Regions from separate parts of the Homo sapiens genome. Here region 1 is linked to region 2. The links come from fine-mapping of genetic effects on gene expression. A gene starts in region 2. The other region holds a variant in brackets. All regions are shown on one strand. Distances are from middle to middle.

What was found. PIP is the estimated chance that this variant, and not a neighbour inherited with it, causes the effect.
Region 1: its variant is the best candidate, but not a certain one, in a credible set for the expression of CSNK2A1 in lung (TOPMed, PIP 0.54).

Annotation. Positions count from the first base shown.
Region 1 is chr20:492,065-494,832 of GRCh38, reverse strand. It overlaps CSNK2A1 (casein kinase 2 alpha 1), which reads left to right. Exons shown (of 14, transcript NM_177559.3): 9 at 2,469-2,579. Among named protein-coding and RNA genes, the nearest start is that of TBC1D20, 31 kb to the right of the region's middle. The variant C/G (reference allele first, on the strand shown) is at 1,119.
Region 2 is chr20:542,513-545,280 of GRCh38, reverse strand. It overlaps CSNK2A1 (casein kinase 2 alpha 1), which reads left to right and starts at 1,491. Exons shown (of 14, transcript NM_177559.3): 1 at 1,491-1,609. RefSeq lists enhancers at 1,026-1,085, 1,196-1,245, 1,356-1,435, 1,456-1,605, 1,091-1,784 and 1 more and a silencer at 1,926-1,985.

The DNA of each region.
Region 1 (2,768 bases), 50 kb after region 2:
AGCCCTTCAGGTAAGGATATGTTTGGCATGTTGGAAGAGCAGCAGCAAGGATAAAGCTGGGACAGAATGAATGCGGGGAAAGAAGGAGGAAATGAAATCAAAGAGGTAAAACCAAATCATGTAAAACCTTATTGGTCATTGTTAGGCCTTTTCTCTGAAGATAGAGAGCTTTTGCATATTCTAAGCTTTAGCATGTTCTCACTTGAAATTTAAAAGTTAACTACACATTTATTAGAACAGCTAAAATAAAAAATAGTGATGGTACCAAGTGCTGGCAAAAATGTGAAGAAACTTGATCTCTCATACATTGCTGGTAGGAATGCAAAGTTTGGCATTTTGGAAAATGCTTAACTATTGTTTTATAGTTGGTTGGTTTCTTGAAAAGCTAAACATATGCTTACCATACAATCCTGCAGTGGCATTTATCTCAGAGCAACAAAATCTTAGGTCCACACAAAAGCCTATATATGAATGCAACTATATTTGTAATAGCTTAAAATTGGGGGGAAAAGCTGGGTGCAGTGGCTCACACCTGTAATCATTTTGGGAGGCCAAGGCAGGCAGATGACGAGTTCAGGAGTTCAAGACCAGCCTGGCCAACATGGTGAAACCCTGTCTCTACTAAAAAAATACAAAAATTAGCCGGGCCTGGTGGCATGCACCTGTAATCCCAGCTACTCAGGAGGCTGAGGCAGGAGAATTGCTTGAACCCCGGAGGCGGAGGTTGCAGTGAGCCGAGATCGTGCCACTGTGCTCCAGCCTGGGTGACAGAGCGAGACTGCGTCTCAAAAAAAAAAAAAAAAAAAAATGGGGAAAAGTGCCCTTCAATGAGGGAATGGTTAAACAAACTGGCATATCCATACCATATAATATTATTATGAAGTAGTATTTCTCAGCAATAAAAAGGAAAGAAGTATGACACATGCAACAACTTGGATGGATCTCATGCTTAGTGAAAAAAGGCAGTCTCAAAAAAAGTTATATGCCAATGACTCCATTTTTGTAGCATTCTCAAAATGATAGAGATAAAGAGCAGAGGGGTTGCCAGGGGTTGGGCTAACACACAGGACATGTGTGTGGTGATGGAACAGTTCTATATCTTGTTGAGGAGATTATAT[C/G]AACTTACATATGTGATGAAATTGCATAGAAACACACACACAAACACATGCGTGCATGTAAAACTGGTGAAACCTGAATAAGATCTTTCTGAATTGTGCCAGTGTCAGTTTCTTGATTTTGATATTGTACTGTAGTTATGTAAGATGTTACTATTAGGGGAAACTGGGTAAAGGGTGCAGAGAATCTCTACTACTTTGGCAATTTCCTGTGAATCTATAATCTCTCCATAGCAACCTGAACAATCCTTTTAAAAAGCTGTTTATATTTATTTTTAAATATTTAATTATTTTTAAAATAACTATTAAACTATTTAGTATTTATTAAACTGTTTAGACTAGAGGGCAAGAGTGAAAGCAGTGAGACCAGTTAGGAGAAGGGGCTATGGCAATATATCAAACAAGAGGTGGTGGTGGCTTGGATCGGGGCAGTGGCAGTGGAGGTGATGATAATGGTCACAATATGATAGAACCTTCAGAATTTTTTGACAGATTAAATGTGAGGTCTGAGGGAATCAAGAATCCAGGGTGAATCTTAAGTTTTGGCTTGTATGACAGGATGAGTATCACCTTTAACCGAACAGGGGGAGACTGAGTGGAGGTGCTTTTGCAGGGAGTAATCAAAGGTTTAGTTTTGAGATACAGGCAGTAAACTTAGTGCCAGAGCAGTCCGATGTTTTTCCTCAGGGCCTACTGCTGGCACTTCAGATCATGGTCATGCTATGCACAGTGGGCAGATAAGCTTGCCTCTTACCCCTTTTTCCATGTTTAGGATGCATTTTGGTAAAAGCTGTATTGTATGACTTTTCTGTTATTTCATCTATCCAGCAAATATTTATTCATTTTTCTCCTGTATACCAGGCATTATGTTGAATTCTGAAAATTACAAAGGTGAATAAAACAGTCCCTACCCCTAAGGAGCTTGTCGTCCATATTGAAAAAGAAAGGTAGAAAACATAAAGAGTTTAGGTTCTGTTAAAGAAATATATCTAAAATTCAGGGGGCTGAAGGCAATGATCAGACTTCATTGAGAAGCTGACTTAAATATTCCAAAAGTTAAGGAAATGCTTACCAATAGGATTATAGGCTGGGTAGTAGGGACATTTTAGTCATTGAGCAGTTTAAGAAATTTGTAAAAGCACAGGTGAGATTGTGTCTTCCAGGAACAAAATCATGGAGAAAGAGGTTTGTCAAGCTAAGAAGTTTTATTTTCATTCTAAAGGCTATAAGTAGTCAGTGGAGGGGTTTCAGTAAAGAGTGACGTGTCTGGTATATTTTATCAAGAGTATGCTAATGGCACAGTGTGGGTAGCTTAGAGAAAGATAAGATTGCTCATGGTTTATTCTTTTTCAGCTACGACTAATAGACTGGGGTTTGGCTGAGTTTTATCATCCTGGCCAAGAATATAATGTCCGAGTTGCTTCCCGATACTTCAAAGGTCCTGAGCTACTTGTAGACTATCAGGTAAGAACAGAAGGGCAGGCACAGTTTTGATCCTGTGTTTATTTCGCACATAATTTACCAAAAAAAAAAAAGTATCATTTTGTGCATTTAGGTAGGCCACTTAATGCACATTCACAGCTGTCCTTTTTATATGAAATGTAAAATATAAATCACCTTAATTCATGTACCATGACTTACATTACTTTTATT
Region 2 (2,768 bases):
GTCTAGCAGATGAGGTCCAGAGAAGGCCACAGCCACCTCCCTGAGGCCATCACTATAAGTCTGCAGCCACCACCAGCCCTAACCCCACATGGGGAAGAGGTGCCTCTTTGGGAGCAGAGGTGCTAGTCAGCTGACAAACTGTGAAGGCAGGGCTGTGGAGGGTGGAGAGGCCCATTCCTGAGACAACCAGCTATTCTGAGACAGTTAGGGATAATGGTTGGTACTGAAAGAACCTGGCCTCCTCACCCTCGTTCCAGTGCTCACACCTCTGTCCCACCAGAGGTGAGACTAATACTTGAACTCCTTTCAGCAACTCTTAGACGCTTCAGCTTTTATCAGGGCCTGCAAAGGAGAGGTTGATCATCAGATGGAGCCCTGTCCACTGGGGGCTCCCAGTCTGATGGAGGAGACAGACTGAGGTCCTCAGGTTACTGACTGATAGTGTCTGGGTTGGAGGGAGTTAAACAGAGAGGAGACCCCTAGAGGAAAGGATCCCTGAATTAGTTCAATCGGCATACAGAAATTATCCAGTCCATGAGGTGACAGTAAGAGAAGTAACTGCCAGTGTAAAGGGAGGGAGGCAACACAGCTAAGTTCCAGGAATTGTTTGCAGTCTTGTGGGTGGAATCTTCCGGAATTTGAGAAGAGAGTGGCAGAATAGGAGGCTGGAAAGGAGGGTTTGGCCAAATTATGGAGGACTCTGAATGTCAAGTGAAGAGTTTGGGCTATCTTTGGTGCATAAAGAGGTCCATGGGAGATTTTTGACCATAGGGAGACCATGATGAGCTCTGCATGGTAGAAAGTGCTTTGTGGCTGTTTTGGGGAGGTAGCTCGGGCAAGGAGAGCAGGGGTGGGAGGCAGATAGAAGGAAAAAAAAACACTGTATTTTGGACGCACAGCTCTTGGCAGGACTCCTGTAGGAGGAAGGAATTGGGCCTTGGTCTCTTGAGAGCTAGTATCCTCACTTCTCAGACTCCTGCGCCATGCCCTTCCTAGGGTCCAACTTTCATTCACTTCTTCCGAACTCCAAGTTTGAATAGAAAGTGTTGCTGAAACCCTAATTTAAAACGAGGGGTCAGAGCAAAAGAGACTTCAGCTCCCAGAATGCTTGGCTCTACAGCTCTGCAGGTCGCGCATGGTTCTTTTCAAGAAAGGGGGGCCAGCTGGGTGAAGTGTGGGAAACCTGGGTACCGCCATCTTAACTTGGGTCAAACCAACTGTTCACCTAATGGGAGGTTCGTGTTCTCTCTGTTGTCACTTGTTAACACTATTGAAATAAAATGCGCTTAACTATTGCAAGTCTCCTTATTCTGCTTTGCGTTGGGGATTCCTTCCATTTTGCACCCTAGGCCAGAACTGAATCCCTAAGGTTACAATAGGACATCCCAGCATGGCCGCATTCAGAGAGATTCCTCTGGGGGCGGAGTCGGAAGCTGTCTCGCCCCGCCTCCTGGTAGGAGGGGGTTTCCGCTTCCGGCAGCAGCGGCTGCAGCCTCGCTCTGGTCCCTGCGGCTGGCGGCCGAGCCGTGTGTCTCCTCCTCCATCGCCGCCATATTGTCTGTGTGAGCAGAGGGGAGAGCGGCCGCCGCCGCTGCCGCTTCCACCACAGGTACCTAGGGAGCAGCCAGGCGAGGTCGTTGGCGGGTGGGGTGGGCCCAGGATAGGGCAGCGGAGCGCGGCCGACCCTCACGCTTCCAGCAGACTCCTGAGCGGCCCGTCGCCTTCCCCTGCCCCCACCTTCACACATAAACCAAGCGAGGCCCCTGCAGCCCATCGGGGAGGCCCAGGGGCCACCCCTCAGGGCGGAGGGCGAGGTTTGGGGGCAGAGGCCGATGTGAGGGTGGGAACCGGCTGCCGGAGTCCAGCTTATTGCAGAGGAGAGGACTGAACTGGGTGGGGACTAGGGGACAACTTGGAGGAGGGGGTCGTCAGAGGGGGAAGGGAACTTGAGGGGTGGGGCCGCAGGGGGGTGCTGGGGGAGGGTGCGGAGGGAGTGGTGCCTGCTGGGTAGTGTGCAGTGAACCCTCCCGCGAAACTGGGCAGCTGGAGTAGGGGCCTTCTTAGGGTCCCTCTGGGCGGGGCTGAGCTTCCCACCTGCAGAGTGGGTGCGAGGTGGAGAGAACCCCAGGCGGGGTTGCTGGGGCGAAAGGGGGAAGGGACCAAGACGTGGGGCAGAACGTCTGGAGTTGGAGTTAAGGACTAGTTAGGAGCCTGGATAGAAAAAGAGGTATGGAGAGAAAGCTTGGCTAAGGGTATACATATGTTGGTGACCTTTTGAAAGAGTAGGACTTTTCAATTTTGTTTTTCGTTGTGTGTTTTTTGCAGTGTTGGAACATTGCTAGATTAAGCAGGTGATGGGTGGAGCTTCTGTAGTTTGTTTTGGGGAAGCAGAGTCAGGGTCAGGAGAAGTTGCATCTTGGCTATTGCTTTGTGTGGAGGAAAGAGTTTTGAAAAGAAGGTGGCAAATTATTTGGGAAGACTTGATTACTTTTCAGCTGTTTAATTCTACGAGAATGGGACATGGGGAGAGGAAATGAAAACTAAGAAGAGAGGCCGGGCGTGTGGCTCACGCCTGTAATCCCAGCACTCTGGGAGGCCGAGGCGGGTGGATCACGAGGTCAGGAGTTCGAGACCAGCCTGACCAACACGGTGAAACCCCGTCTGTACTAAAAATGCAAATATCAGCCGGGCTTGGTGGCGCGCGCCTGTAATCCCAGCTACTCGGGAGGCTAAGGCAGGAGAATCGCTTGAACCTGGGAGGCGGAGGT